Homo sapiens: one gene and its partner. The protein of the gene in region 2 interacts with the protein of the main gene of each other region in a pairwise test. Each region holds a gene or a part of one and is shown on either strand. Other genes may lie near its edges.

Region 1 (7,715 bases), on a different chromosome or scaffold from region 2:
TGCTAGCCATTAGGAAGCTATATCTGAAGGCTGAATCTGAAGTCAAGGGATTGATTTTTTTGGTTTTTGTTTTTAATAAACATTCCAACTCATATCAGATGAATGCCTCCTTCAAAGGAGTCATTCTGGGAAGTTCTACACTTATTCTAATTATGTCCCTGTTTTCAAATTATGATGTCTGGTGTTGCTTTCAGGGTTTGTGAGATAGTCTTTTGAATGCTCTCAGTGTTGACTCTTGAAAGTAGATTTGATTTTAAAAAACAATCAAGGGTTCTGGGCCAAATCTGGTGAACTAGGGGGGCGGTCAAACTGTGTAATGCCAAGAGGGGTGACTCTAATGTATCCAGGCTGATTTTTCTTGAGTGAATTTGTAGTCACCAGAAGGCACTTTCTGAAGACAAACTCAGACATGAAGTAAACATGTTATAAGCATGACATCAAGCTTGAGTTTGGGGAGGAGAGTTGGAAGATGGTGACTGCGCTGAAGGAAACCCCACTCATTTGGGTATGCAAGTTTTCTAGGATCTCCTCTACCCAGAATATTTCTTCAGGTCCAGATCTATCCTATTTCACAGGACCACAGTTCCCAGACTTACAAGGATCCTACTGCCTTAGTCAACTTTTAACCCCCAACCTGAGTACTTCCCTCCCCCCCGGGCAAAGACAGGGTCTTGCTCTTTTGTACAGTGGTGGGATTACAGCTCATTGCAGCTTTGAACTCCTGGGCTCGAGTAATCCTCCCGCCTCAGCTTCCCAAAGTGCTGGGATTAGAAGCATGAGCCGCCGCGCCCGGCCCTGGACCTGAGTACTTGATATGTGTGCAATCAATACCTGATGGGAAATTAAGTATGGGGAAGAACGTCTAAGGTGTCTGGGTTTAGTCTACATGATTCAAAAGGCAGAAGAGGTAGAAGGATTTGGAGACACAAATTCTGCTCTATATGAGGAAACATTGTCAGCCACTGGAGCTGTCCAGCAATGGAATTAGTTTGCTCTGTAAATAGTGAGCTTTCGGCCCTGGGAGGAGTTTAAAGCAAAGGCTGCTTGTATGGGAACCTGCAGAGGTGTCTCCTGTAATAGGTGGGGAGCTATGCAATGACCTTCAAGGGCTATCTCCCACCTACACAGTATCTGACATTTGGTAGGCCTTGGAAAAACCTGGTAGAATGGAACAAATAAGGAATATGGTGCATCTTGTGAATCAAGTAGAGAGGAAAGAGGCCTGGGGCTCAATCAGGAGCAAGAAGTGAGGCAGAAGTGAGATGAAAATAGCCAGGGAGCCAAGAGGTAGAGTCTTCCTTGGGTTTTTAGTACCATAGGAGAGAAATTGCTTTGGGTACCTAGAGCCTCACGTGGTTAGGAAAGGATAATACCTTTGAAGGGGATAGGAGTTGGGGGAGAAGATAGACTACTGCTCACCCTTCTTAAACTCCTCCAGAACCGTGTCCAGTCGGGTGTCATTGAAAACACAATGCAGGGGCCGGTTGTAGAAGCGGGTGACAGTGAGGAGCGGGGTGCAGTCGTCGGGGTCCACGAAGGCCAAGTCCTTGACAAATAAAATGTCCACAATGTTGTGCCGCTGGTCACCCTCGTACACTGGGATGCGAGTGTAGCCGCTGCGCAGGATCTCGGAGACAGTGGCGAAGTCGAGCACCGCGTCTGAGCGCAGCATGAAGCAGTCTCCCAGGGGGGTCAGCACCTCCTCCACAACTTTGGTGCGCAGCTCCAGGGCACCCTGTATGATGTTGAGCTCCTCCTTCACCAGGTCACTGTAGGGGTCTGCGGCCCGCAACGTCTCCAGCAACTTCTCCCGCGTGTAGAAGGTGCTTATCTCCTGGCGCAGCGCCCAGTCCAGCAGGCGGCCCAGCGGGTAGCACACGGGGAAGGCGGCTGCCATCAGAAGCCGGGTCAGGCACACGCTGTGCGAGGCGATGGCCAGCCCGTGCCGCGAACACACTGAGTAGGGGCAGATTTCGGCGCCCAGGAATACCGCGCCGGTGCACACGAGCGCCGGCAGCCACGGGAAGTGGATCCCCTCTTCGCTGTAGTCTTCCCCGGTGCCCCCGAAGCCCGGCGGCAGCGAGGTGTACAGCCAGCCAGCCAGGGCCGCGTTGGCTCCGGCTTGGCCCAGGAGTAGGGTGCAGAGCAGATGGGTCCCCCTGCCGCGAACGGCCTGCACGCGGCGCGCCTGCTCCTGCTCGGCGGCCGAGCCGCTGTTCCGCAGCACCCGTAACTCCACCGGGTCCAGCGACAGCAGGCTCAGGCGCAGGCCGCTGAACAGGGCCGACAAGGCTAGCAGCAGGAGCGCCCCGAGCGCCCGCAGCCACGCAGGGGGCAGCAGGTCCCCGCCTGGGCCGTACAACCGCGGGCGAACGCGCAGCAGGAAGCCGCCGGCGGCGCCGTGGTGGTGCCACGCGCGCCCATCCCAGGCGCAGAGTGAAAAGAGCTTCCCGCCACCGCCCGCGCCGCCCCGCTCCGCTTCGCCCTTGCGCAGCTCCCGCACTCGCACCTGGACCAGGGCCGAGCCTGCCACGCCCCCGGGACGCAAGGGCCCCAGGACTTCCACGTCCGATGCCCAGTCGCTCTGCTCCCTGCAGCGCTGCGGTCCCGGGGGGCGAGTGGGGACCGCGCTGGGGGCCACGCCGCCACCGCCCGGGGGCTCCTCGATGAACACGAGCCGCGGAGCCCAGTCGCCGGTGCCATTCTCCCCCGAGTTGAGGGTCGGTGAGGGCACCGGTGCGGCGGTGGCCGGCGGTCCTGGCTGGAAATAGACACGCAGGAGGAAGCTGGTGCCTTCGGCGGCGCGCAGGGTGCCCCCCTCCAGGGACACGCGGCCTCCAGCAGTGTCCTCGGGCCGCAGGCCCAGCAGCCAGGCGGCGGCGGCCGGGGGCCGAGGAGACAGGGAAAAGAAGAGCAGGAGCACAGCGCCTCGGCTGCAGCAGTCCCGGAGCCTGACACCCACCGCTGCTGCCGCCGCCGCGGCCGCCGCCATCCTGCACCCAGCGCAGCTGCACGTGATACTGCAGGAAGCCGAGCGAGAGCTGGAGGGAGGAGGAGCCGGAGCTGGGAACCCAGCCGCAGGCAGGTCACCACGTGTACGCCCACTGCGCGCGTGGGCTGGTGGCGGTGGGCATTCAGACTCCACCTGGGCAGGAGGTCCCCGCTGGAGGCTGGAGGTGGCCAGGCATCACCGCACTGTGCGTAGCGGGTACACACTTCGGTATATCTGAGATGCAGCCTGAAAAGTCTGGGTTTGCAGCATGGCCTCCTACTCCAAAAGTAAGGTGCTCCTCTGCGAACTCCTACCCGGCAGTAATTCCCTGCCGGCTCCACTGCTTCCCCATTGGCCCGGGAAATTTCCCAGCTTTTCGCTTCTCCTGCCACTTGCATTCCCCCTTCTGGTCAAAAGAATATTCTGGAGTCAAGTCTTGAATATGTGAAAACTTTTAGCCTCAACTCCAGCCGACCTTTCATTATTGTAAACATTTCTGGATTATTTAAGTTCAATTCTTAGTTAAGATCCGAATGTCCATCAATAAGAAACTGTTGAAATAAGTGAAACCACTGTGCAATGGAATACTATGCGGCAATAAAAAATAATGCGGTGGATCTGTTGTATATGTGATACGGAAAAAAATCTCCAAAGTAATTGTAGAAACAAAGTAAGGTGCAGAACAGCAAGTATAATATGCTACCATTTGTGTTAAAAGTATTTATGTATAAATTTGTACACACACACACACTTATATGAGATTTATTTATTTATTTATTTATTTTGAGATGGAGTCTTGCTCTGTCGCCCAGGGTGGAGTGCAGTGGCACAATTTTGGCTCACTGCAACCTCCACCTCCCGGGTTCAAGCGATTCTCCTACCTCAGCCTCCTGAGTAGCTGGGATTACAGGCGTGCGCCACCGCGCCCAGCTAATTTTTATATTTTTAGTAGAGATGGGGTCTCACCATGTTGGCCAAGCTGGTCTCGAATCCCTGACTTCAAATGATCCATCTGCCTCGGCCTCCCAGGGTGCTGGGATTACAGGCGTGAGCCACCGCGACCCGCCGTTTACATCTTTTAATTAATTTATTTATTTTGAGACGGAGTTTCGCTCTTGTCACCCAGGCTGACGTGCAATGGCGCGATCTCGGCTGACTGCAACCTCCGCTTTCCAGGTTCAAGCGATTCTCCTACCTCAGCCTCCTGAGTAGCTGGGATTACAGGCGCCCGCCATCACGCCCGGCTAATTTTTTTTTTTTTTTTTTTTGGTAGAGACGGGGTTTCACCACGTTGGCCAGGCTGGTCTCGAACTCCTGACCTCAGGTGATCCGCCTGCCTCGGCCTCGCAAAGTGCTGGGATTACAGGCATGAGCCACCGTGCCTGGCGGGTTACATCTTAATTATAGTACAATATCAAAAGCAGGAAGTTGATATTGGTGTAATGTGTGTATATAGTTCTCTATCATTTTATCACATGTATGGATGTATGTGACCATCACTGCACTCAAAATACAGATCTATTATCACCAAGATCTGGGAGGGAGACTTTCTTATTAAATTCCTTATATTGTTTGAATTTACTCGACTATATTATTTTTATGCATTTATTTTTAAACTTTATATAGTAAAATTCACTTTTTGGTGTACTGTTCTATGAATGTTGACAAATGCATATACATGTAAACATCACAATAAAAAGTAATTCCATCACCACCACCCCCCAAATTCTCTTACCGTCCTATTGTATGTAGTCAACCCCTCCCTTCGTCTTATCCTCTGGGAACTACTGATCTGTTCTCCCCTATAGTTTTCTTTTCCGGATTATCATATAAATGGAGAATACAGTCTGTAGCCTTTTGGGTTCTCCCTTCCTTTACTAAGTTAGCATAATGCATTTACGATTCATCTATGTTGTTGTGATTTTCAGTAGTTCATCCTTTTGTATGGCTGAGTAGCATTCCATTATATGGATGTGTCACTGTTTGTTTATCCATTCAATAAAGGATATTTAAGTTATTTCCAGTTTTTAGCAATTATTAATAAAGTGGCTATGAACATTTGTGTGATGGTTTTTGTGAGAACATAAATTTTTATTTCTCTTGGGTAAATTTATCATAAGTCTGTATTACATTTTAAAATATAGTAATCCTAACTACTTGGTAGGCTGAAGTGGGAGGATCTCTTGAGGCCAGGAGTTAGAGACCAGCCGGAACAATGTAGGGAGGCCCTGTCTCTAAAAAATTAAAAATTAAAAAAAATTAGCCAGGCATGGCGACACATGCCTGTAGTTTCATCTACTTGGGAGGCTGCAGCAAGAGGATCACTTGAGCCCAGGAATTCGAAGCTGCAGTGAGCTATAATCGCATCACTGCACTCCAGCCTGGGCAACAGCATGAAACCTTGTCTCTAAAAATAATTAATAAATTAAAAAGGAAGAGTTATTTTACATACCACCCTTGGCACCTGGGTTTAGTGTAAAATCATCCCTATGTGTGAAATCTCATTTTCCGTGGCATTTGTGACATGCCATTGTCTCAGAATACACTAGATCCTGTCCACTATAAGCTGCTTTTTGCATGGGCTACTTAAGAGACAGAAGGGAGGTTTAATCTTATGAGGGAACATTGAGGCATTTATTCGAAGTATAAGGGAAGGAGAGAACTGGGGTCAACCATATGATTGTTTTTCTTCCTTTCTTTCTTTCTTTTTTTTTTTTTATTGAGACGGAGTCATGCTCTGTCACCCAGGCCGGAGTGCAGTGACGCGATCTTGGCTCACTGCAACCTCCACCTCCTGGGTTCAAGCAATCCTCCTGTCTCAGCCTCCCAAGTAGCTGGGATTACAAGAGTGTGCCACCACACCTGGCAAATTTTTGTGTTTTTAGTAGAGATGGGGTTTCACCATGTTGGCCAGGCTGGTCTCAAACTCCTGACTTCAGGTGATCCACCTGCCTCGGCCTCCCAAAGTGCTGGGATTACAGGCGTGAGCCACCCGCCCAGCTGATTGTTTTTCTTAAGTGCAAAAAAGCGCTTACTTCTCTCCTGACACTTAGACTTCTTTCCCTTCCCAACCTAAACTCCTCAGCACAAAGATACCCGCTATCCTAAGGGCTTTCCCAGCTCTTTTAGACCACAGAACATTATCATCATTACAATACCACGTAACATCTTTAACAAGCTTTAAAGTTATGAAGGAATTTCTTATTTATTATTCCATATACACAAGAGCCCTGGGAAGTAGGTATAATTATACCCATTTTACAGATCAGGTTAAATGACTGGTAAAACTTCTTTGGACCCTAGCTTGATGCTTCCTTTATCTGGTAGAGCTGACGGAAATAAAATGTTTAAAAAATATTAGAGCAGGAATTAAAAAACTGAAATTTCTGGTTATAAAGTATTACATGCTTATTAACAAAAATTTTAATGCAGAAGAACATAAATAAAAATACACCATGACCCACCAACTAGAGATAAACACTGTTAACATTTTTTATACTACTTTTTACATTTTCTACATAGATAAGTAATGGAGAAATACATGCACACACACACACACACACGTGCTCTCCATATAGTTACATATTTTATAATTAAATATGTATTATACATAATTCTAGTCAGCTCCTGCTACTTAACACATCAAGGGCTTTTTCCCCAATGTAATAAAAATCATTCATAAATGTCATTTAAATAAATCAAATATATATGTATTACATATGTATTGAGAAAGAGAGAGAACTGTAAGAATGAGCCTATTCCCAATTGCACCAGCTCTATTATTAACAAATGTTAGGCTTGGAAAATCAATCTACTTTTCTGGGCTCATTTCCTCATTCGTGAAATGACAGTTTTAAGCTCCCTACCCTTTCATGAGTCAGTGAGTAAGGGCTAATGTACACTGTGTGAAGATAATCTAGAGAGACTGAGTACTTTTCCTTTTACTGAATAGGAGGTTCTGGAAAAGTACTGGGTTTCCAGAGCTCTGCTGTAACTGAAAGGATTCCTGGGGACAGGTTCAGGCAGTGTGATTCTCCTAAGGAAGAGCTGCCAAAAATAGCTCCCCAGAATCTGAATGTTTACTGTCTTCTTAGCTTACAAGATGGGCACTTCCTCGCTTCTCAGAGAGATGGAGGAAATAATACTTACTTTTAATATCATGACTATACTATTTCAGAATGTACATGTTAAAATGCTTTTGTTTATTTCATTTCTTGTTCATCCATTCCATAAATATTTGTTAATCATCAAAGTGCCAGGCCTTGTGCTAGATATTGGGCATATCTGACACCATCTTTGTCATCTTGGAGCTTAGATTCTCCTGAGGAAGACAGACATAAACCGGAAATTACCTACCTGCCTAATTAATTAATTATTGCCATGAAGGAGCTGTTCAAAGTGCCCTGAGGGTGCATGGGACCCATCATCTAGGGAAGAGGGTCTGGGAACTCTATCCACAAAAATTAGATGTTATAAAAATGGAAGAATTTATACATTAGGAAGAACATAAAATTATTAAATTTTGTATCTTCTATTCCTTTTTTGTACTTTAAAACTATGACAGTATATTAGTAATATTCCTAATAATGTAATCTGTTAGCTTTTTTTTTTTTTTTTTGAGGCAGGGTCTTGCTCCATCGCCCAGGCTGCAGTGCAGTGGCGTGATCTCCACTCACTGCAACCTTTGCCTCTGGGTTCAAGCGATTTTTGTGCCTCAGCTTCC
Region 2 (7,191 bases):
CTTAGGCCCCAAAGAGCCTCCAGTCAGCATCTCCTAAATGATCCCCTTGCCTCCAGCCTTCTCCATTAGTTTCAACAGCTCTCCTAAGTACTAGCTGCTAGGCCATCACGTTGATGAGAAACCTCAATATAAGAGGAGCTACTGAGAGAGTAGTATGACGTATTGGAAAAATCAAGGGCTTTAGAGTCAAAGACCTGGATTTTTAATCCAGCACTAATTATTATCTGTATGACCTGGGACAAGTTACTTAACCTTTTGAGTTTCTGTATCTCTTCTTCTCACCACTGTAAATCCATGGGAGCTCATCGCTGTATCCCTAGTGCCTGGCAAATAGAAGTGATTCAAAATAAGCTAAATGGATGCAAATGAAGATACCACCTTTCTTGTAGTTGTGAGAATTAAATGAATATAAAAAGCACCTGTAGCACAGGAGGAAATTAATACTAATCAATTCCTTCCCTCACTGAATAGTAACAATACTATTTACTATTTCTTTCTTCTTATTTTTTTTGAGAGAGGGTCTCACTGGCTCACTGCAGCCTTGACTTCCTGGACTCACAAGATCCTCTCACCTCAGCCTCCGGGATAGCTGGAACTACAGGCACGCACTACCACGCCTAACTTTTGTATTTTCTGTAGAAATGGAGTCACCATGTTACCCAGGCTGGTCTCGAACTCCTGGGCTCAAGCGATCCTCCTGCCTCAGCCTCCCAAAGTGCTAGGATTACAGGTATGAGCCAGCTTGCCCAGCCGAAAAATATAATTTCTAACTTTTAATTACACATCAGTGATTTTGCCTGTAATTCTATTATGTTCACTATCAAAAGGACCACCCTCACGCCTGTTAATCCCAGCACTTTGGGAGGCCAAGGCAGGTGGATCACTGGAGGTCAGGAGTTCGAGACCAGCCTGGCCAACAAGGTGAAACCCCATCTCTACTAAAAATATGAAAATTAGCCGGGTGTGGTGGCACACACTTGTATTCTCAGCTACTTGGGAGGCTGAGGCGGGAAGATCATTTGAACCCGGGAAGCCTGGGCAACAAACAGAGCGAGACTCCATCTCAAAAACAAACAAAAAAAAAACAAAAGGACCATACTACTCTTTGCTTATACTGAAAGACTACCAACTTCTATCGCTTCTCGGCCTTTTGGCTAAGATCAAGTGAAAGACTACCAACTTCTAGGAGACATTATTTTTAAGATAACATCATTTTTAAGATTATATCAATGTGTAAAATCCCTATCAAGGTACTACTCTTCAAGAATCCCTACTTTTACAACACAAGAATGGGAAAAGTCCATGATAATAATTAGTCCATTCATTATGAAACTTAAAAATGCCAAGATCAGAATACCAGCAAACAACTTCTCACCATCTTCACCAATACAATGGTGTGCTGGCAAGTGATTCTGAAGCCCTGATAATGTGTCATTCTGTATCCTTAATCTCCTTTTGCACACTCAGCAAGGCATAACTTCACTCACTTCCCTCTGAAACTACTCTCTCTTACAGAGCATGACAGCAAGTACCATATTCCAACTCAGCAGTGTAATGTAGTTTGGCGACTCCGGACAGACAAACATTTGCTGAATGCCTACAGTGACACTAGAATTGCTAGTCACTGCTAATTTCTTGACAAATTCCAGGAAATAATAAACCAGACTACAGTTCAATTTACCTAACAATAAAATACTCTTCACCTGAAAAACTAGCAGTACTTTACAAAAGTTTATGCTCCTGAACACTCTACAGGCCAGAGTGTAGGATTTTGGGCAACAGACAAACTTCTTTTCGTTAGCTCTCAGGGGCCCCAGACTAGGATAGGATGGCATCATTGACAAATTTGAAAATTTACTTTGAAGTCATGAAACGTGGGAGAAAAAAATGTATAGAACAACAACAAAAAAACACATCACATCCTTTCTGGGGGAAAAAAATTAAAATCCCAGAGCCAGAAGATCATAGTGCCGCTGGAGGAGACTTATACCCCCTTTCCTCATACTTGAACCTGAAGACCCACGGACAAGATGCTCCCGGAAAGAACTCCCCAACCCAACACACCAGGGTTCACTATCGCCACACACAAAGACCAAGGGGAAGGGCCTCTAGGATGCCTGCTCACACACTGGACACACGCCGGCACACCCTACCACACTCCTGCCTCTGCCACGCACCTTCTCACCGACACACACCATGTTCTCCCCCCACACTCACCCGCTCTTTACCACACTCTCAACTCTCTCCTCCCCCATTTACTCACTCATTCTACCACCACCCCTCATGCCCACACGCTCCCCACACACCCATACCCTCCCCTGCCCTCACCCACATTCCCCCAACATCGACACTGCCTCCCGACGCGCTCCCACTCCCCCCACCTCCTCGCACGGACACTCAGCCCTGTCCCCCACTCACACGCCCTCCCTTCACCAACTCACTCTCCCCCACGCTCGCACAGCTCTCTCCCTTCCACACACACGAGCCCGCCCCTCGCTCACCCACCCTCGCTCCCCCGCCCCGGCCCGGCCCGGCCCTCCTTCCGGGGACGTGTCTCCGGCCTGCACTAATGGCTGCGGCGCCTCCCGCCCTCCCCTTCCCCGAGGCCCCCGGCGCCGGCGCGGGGGCCGCCCGGGAGGGGCGCACTCACGCTGGCGAGCTGGGGACTGGGCATTGAAGTCCGGCGGTGGCGGGAGCGAGGAGGCGCCTCTCTCCTCAGTCACCTCGGCGGCGGCGGCGGCGGCGGTAGCGGTGGCGGCGGCGGCGACGACTCCCCCCCAGCCTCGGCGCGCGACACCCGGCCCGGCCCGGCGGCGGCGGCGGCGGCGCGTCTCCACGAGTCCGTCTTGCTGCTGCTGCTGCGGCCGCCGCTGCGTCTCCTGCTGCCGCCGCTGCCTCCGCTGCCGCCGCTGCCCTGTGGCGTCACCTCGCGCCGTGCCCGGCCGCCGCTGCCGCTCCAGCCGCTCCCGGACAGACGACGGTTACAGCCCGGCCGATCGCGCCGCCACCACCACCGCTGCGCGCGCAGCCGGAACCAGCTCCCGCCGCCGCCCCTCAGGGGGCGCTGCGGGGCGCGGCGCGCAGGGCCACCGGCCCGCCCTCCGCGTTCGCTGACTGGCTGGCTGGCCGGCTCGCGGGCAGTTGGGCCCGCCCACCTGCCCCGCGGGGCGCTGACCCACTGCCCTGGGCGCCTCCCCCGCTCCTCCTCCTCGTGGTTCGTTCCGCTCCGCACTCCCGGCTACGGAAGGCGAGTCCATGTGATCGGGGAGGGAAGGCAGAACGTGGCCTGGGGAGTCGCTCGCCCACGCTGCGCCCCGCCCATCCGCACCTGGGCTGGGTCGAGGGCCTGCAGCCGAGGTGTGACCTGCAAGGTCGAAGGGTTCTTTCTCGCTACTTGGCCCTAAGGCCTCGGGTCAGATCCTGATGGGACGGGGTGGCCGCCACGTCCTGGGCTTGGGGATTTCCAACTCAGAAGTGGGAACCTGGCCAGCTCAGTTCTCGGCTGCCCTTCCTGAGGCCCCAAATGAATGGCGTGTGCATCTTCGTCGAAGATATTAATACGCCACCCCCAGCTCTGCCCACAAGACACACACCCACCCTAAGAACTGTCCCTGACAAGCCAAAATTCAGACTTTCAGGATGTAGGATCTTGGGCAAGTGATTCCAAGTATTATCAACTATTAAATGGAAATAATAATCAGCTACCTCATGGGCTCTTTCACGTATCGATAACAACGTATGAAAACGCTTGAGAAGGGCCAGGCGCGGTGGCTCATACCTGTAATCCCAGTACTTTGGGAGGCCGAGGAGGGCAGATCACAAGGTCAGGAGTTCGAGACCAGCCTGGCCAACATAGTGAAACCCTGTGTCTGCTAAAAATACAAAAATTAGCTGGGCATGGTGGCGCCCGCCCGGAAGGAGGGCCGTAATCCCAGCTACTCGGGAGGTTGAGGCAGGAGACTCACTTGAACCCGGGAGGCGGAGTTTGCAGTGAGCCGAGATCGTGCCACTGCACTCCAACCTGGGCGACAGAGTGAGACTCCGTCTCAAAAAAAAAAAAGAAAGAAAAAGAAAACGCTTGAGTTGAGAAAGTGAGAAAGAAGAGACCCTGAATTTCAAGCTTTCCGACTTAATGTCACCTTTAACGACGCAGATTATCGTAGAGATTCTCAGGTGGAAAGGTTTTTGCCTCTTGCATTTGGAAGCTAGCCAGAAATTCTTTGCCAGATCATGCGTCCTGAGTTTTGGTTTGGAAAATGTGGTCACTAGCGAGCTAGGAGGCTGGTTTGGGCCACGACCAGATGGCAAAGTGCGGCATTGGAGGCTGGCTTGGGAGGGAGATGTCTCCCCCTGGGAATTGCGGGTTGGGGAGGGTCTGTTCTTTCTGTCCACCCCTGGGAAGTCTTGCCTGCCCAGAACTGGCGCCTATATAGGAAGAAATGAAGATGCTCCCGTGGGTGCTTCTCCCCCACCTCGCCACCACATCCATGCTCATCCAGCCCTGCGGGGAGAAGCAGTGATCTGTCGTCATTAGACCTTCCCCACAAGGTAGACTTGGGGCATTGCTTCTGACCAGAAGGCTTCCATTAGCGCTTAGCAGTAAAAAGAAAGGTCTTATGACTCAGCCGCATCAAGCCACAGCACAGAGTCCAGGATGTTCACCACCAGGTGGCCCAGGAGGGGGTATTCTAGGGCAAGGCTGGCTAGCAGGGCTGTGTGGGAGTTGAGAGAGGCCTTGAGGAGCAGGAGGGGCTGCAGATCAGTAGCAAGGCCCTTAGGTGAGGAGCACAGACTGGGCTCACTTGCATTCTGTCTGCCTCCAGCAAGCAGTATTTTCTACTTCCTGGAAACATAGACTGATTTGAAAGAAAGAGCTACCACCTCTGCAAAACTTTTGCTGCGTCTGTGAGTTATTGATTCTTCCGATAAAGTTGCAAAACACCTTGTGCAATACTCTACCATAGTACTTAACATGGAATTGTAATTGCCTGTTTTCAGATTCTCCCCTGCTTAAATGGATCTATTTGGGGCAGTCTAGCAGATTGTTTGCTTGTTTGTTTTCATCTAGTAGATTGTCTGACCAAGTGAATGACCCTTCCCTCCACCTAGCTCTCCTTCTGGCCCTGAAATAAAATAATGTAATAACAACATTAACAACATAAGGATAAGAATAGTGGCTCCAATAGTAGTTACCTTTACCGCCCCCCCCCTTTTTTTTTTTTTGAGACAGAGTCTCACTCTGTCACCCAGGCTGGAGTGCAGTGGCGGGATCTCAGCTCACTGCAAGCTCCACCTCCTGGGTTTACACCATTCTCCTGCCTCAGCCTCCTGAGTAGCTGTGACTACAGGCGCCCACCGCCACGCCCAGCTAATTTTTTGTATTTTTAGTAGAGGTGGGGTTTCACTGTGTTAGCCAGGATGGTCTCGATCTCCTGACCTCATGATCTGCCCGCCTCGGCCTCCAGAAGTGCTGGGATTACAGGCGTGAGCCACCGCGCCTGGCCTTTTTTTTTTTTTTTAAGACAGGGTCTCACTTTGTCACCCCAGAGGGAATGCAGTAGTGCAAACATGGCTCACTGCAGCCTCAACCTCCTAGGCTCAAGCAATCCTCCCACCTCAGCCTCCCAAGTAGGTGGGTGGGACCATGGGCCCATGCCACCATGCCCAGCTAATTATTTTTTTATTTTTGTAGAGATGGAGGTCTTGCCATGTTGCCTAGACTGGTCTTGAACTCCTGGGCTCAAGCAACCTTCACACTTTGGCCTCCCAAAGTGTTGGGATTATAGGCATGAACCACTGCACCCAGCCATAGTTACCTTTTATTAAGCATCTACTCTTTTTCAAGTCCTGATTGAAACGTTTTAAAATGTTATCAAGGCCCGGCACAGCGGCTCATGCCTGTAATCCCAACACTTTGGGAGGTCGAGGCGGGTGGATCACCTGAGGTCAGGAGTTTGAGACCAGCCTGGCCAACATGGTGAAACCCTATCTCTACTAAAAATACAAAAATTAGCCGAGAGTGGTGGTAGGCATCTATAAGCCCAGGTACTCAGGAGGCTAAGGCAGGAGAATCACTTGAACCCAGAAGGCGGAGGTTGCAGTAAGCCAAGATCGCGCCACTTCACTCTAGCCTAGGCAACAAGAGCAAAACTCCATCTCAAAATAAATAAATAATAAAATAAAATCTATTATCAAGTTTATGATTCAAAATGACCCTATTAAGAAGGTACTATTACCCCCATTAAAAAAGGGAAGTATTATCAACTATTAAATGGAAATAATAATCAGCTACCTCATGGGCTCTTTCACGTATCGATAATAACGTATGAAAACACTTGAGAAAGGCCAGGCGCGGTGGCTCACGCCTGTAATCCCCACACTTTGGGAGGCCAAGGCAGGCAGATCATGAGGTCAGGAGTTTCAGACCAGCCTGGCCAACATAGCGAAAAGCTGTCTCTACTAAAAATACAAAAATTAGCCGGGCATGGTGGCACATGCCTGTAGTCCCAGCTACTTGGGAGGCTGAGGCAGGAAAATCACTTGAACCTGGGAGGCGGAGGTTGTGGTGAACTGAGATCACAACACTGCACTCCACCCTGGGCAACAGATCGAGACTCTGTCTCAGAAAAAAGAAAAAAAAAAGGCCAGTTGCAGTGGCTCACGCCTGTATCTCAGCACTTTGGGAGGCCGAGGCAGGCAGATCACGAGGTCACGAGTTTGAGACCAGCCTGACCAACATGGTGAAACCTTGTTTCCACTAAAAATACAAAAATTAGCCAGGCGTGGTGGCGTGCGCCTGTAATCCCAGCTACTTAGAAGGCTGAGGCAAGAGAATTGCTTGAATCTGGGAGGCGGAGATTGCAGTGAGCCGAGCTGAGATCATGCCACTGCACTCCAGCCTGGGCGACAGGGTAAGACTCCGTCTCAAAAAAAAAAAAAAAAAAAGAAGGAACCAGAGGCTCAGAGAGAAGAAATGACAGAAACAGGATTCACCCCAGGTTTGTCTGCCTCTGAAGCCCAAATAATCATGATATTCGTTTCTGACTTCAGTCAATAACTGGTGTCCTCAGAATAAGCTGGAAACCCTTGTGAAATGCTGAAAAAAATATCTGCCTCTGAGAGGGAAAGGTCCTAGACTATGACACCACTGCCACATTCCCTTACCCCCCGGAAAGCAGAGAGATGCTCTCA

The links. Proteins that work in one complex are often made in the same cells at the same time.
Region 1: the proteins of PTP4A2 (region 2) and CNNM1 interact in binary tests that used the Homo sapiens proteins (3 or more experiments, as listed by UniProt).

The regions. Positions count from the first base shown.
Region 1 is NC_000010.11:99,324,665-99,332,379, reverse strand, and holds the start of CNNM1 (metal transporter CNNM1), read right to left. Parts: upstream 3,025-7,715; 5' UTR 2,993-3,024; coding exon 1,420-2,992; intron 1-1,419. UniProt on the Homo sapiens protein: Probable metal transporter.
Region 2 is NC_000001.11:31,935,337-31,942,527, forward strand, and holds the start of PTP4A2 (protein tyrosine phosphatase type IVA 2), read right to left. Parts: upstream 3,033-7,191; 5' UTR 2,651-3,032; intron 2,483-2,650; exon of another isoform or gene 2,419-2,482; intron 1-2,418.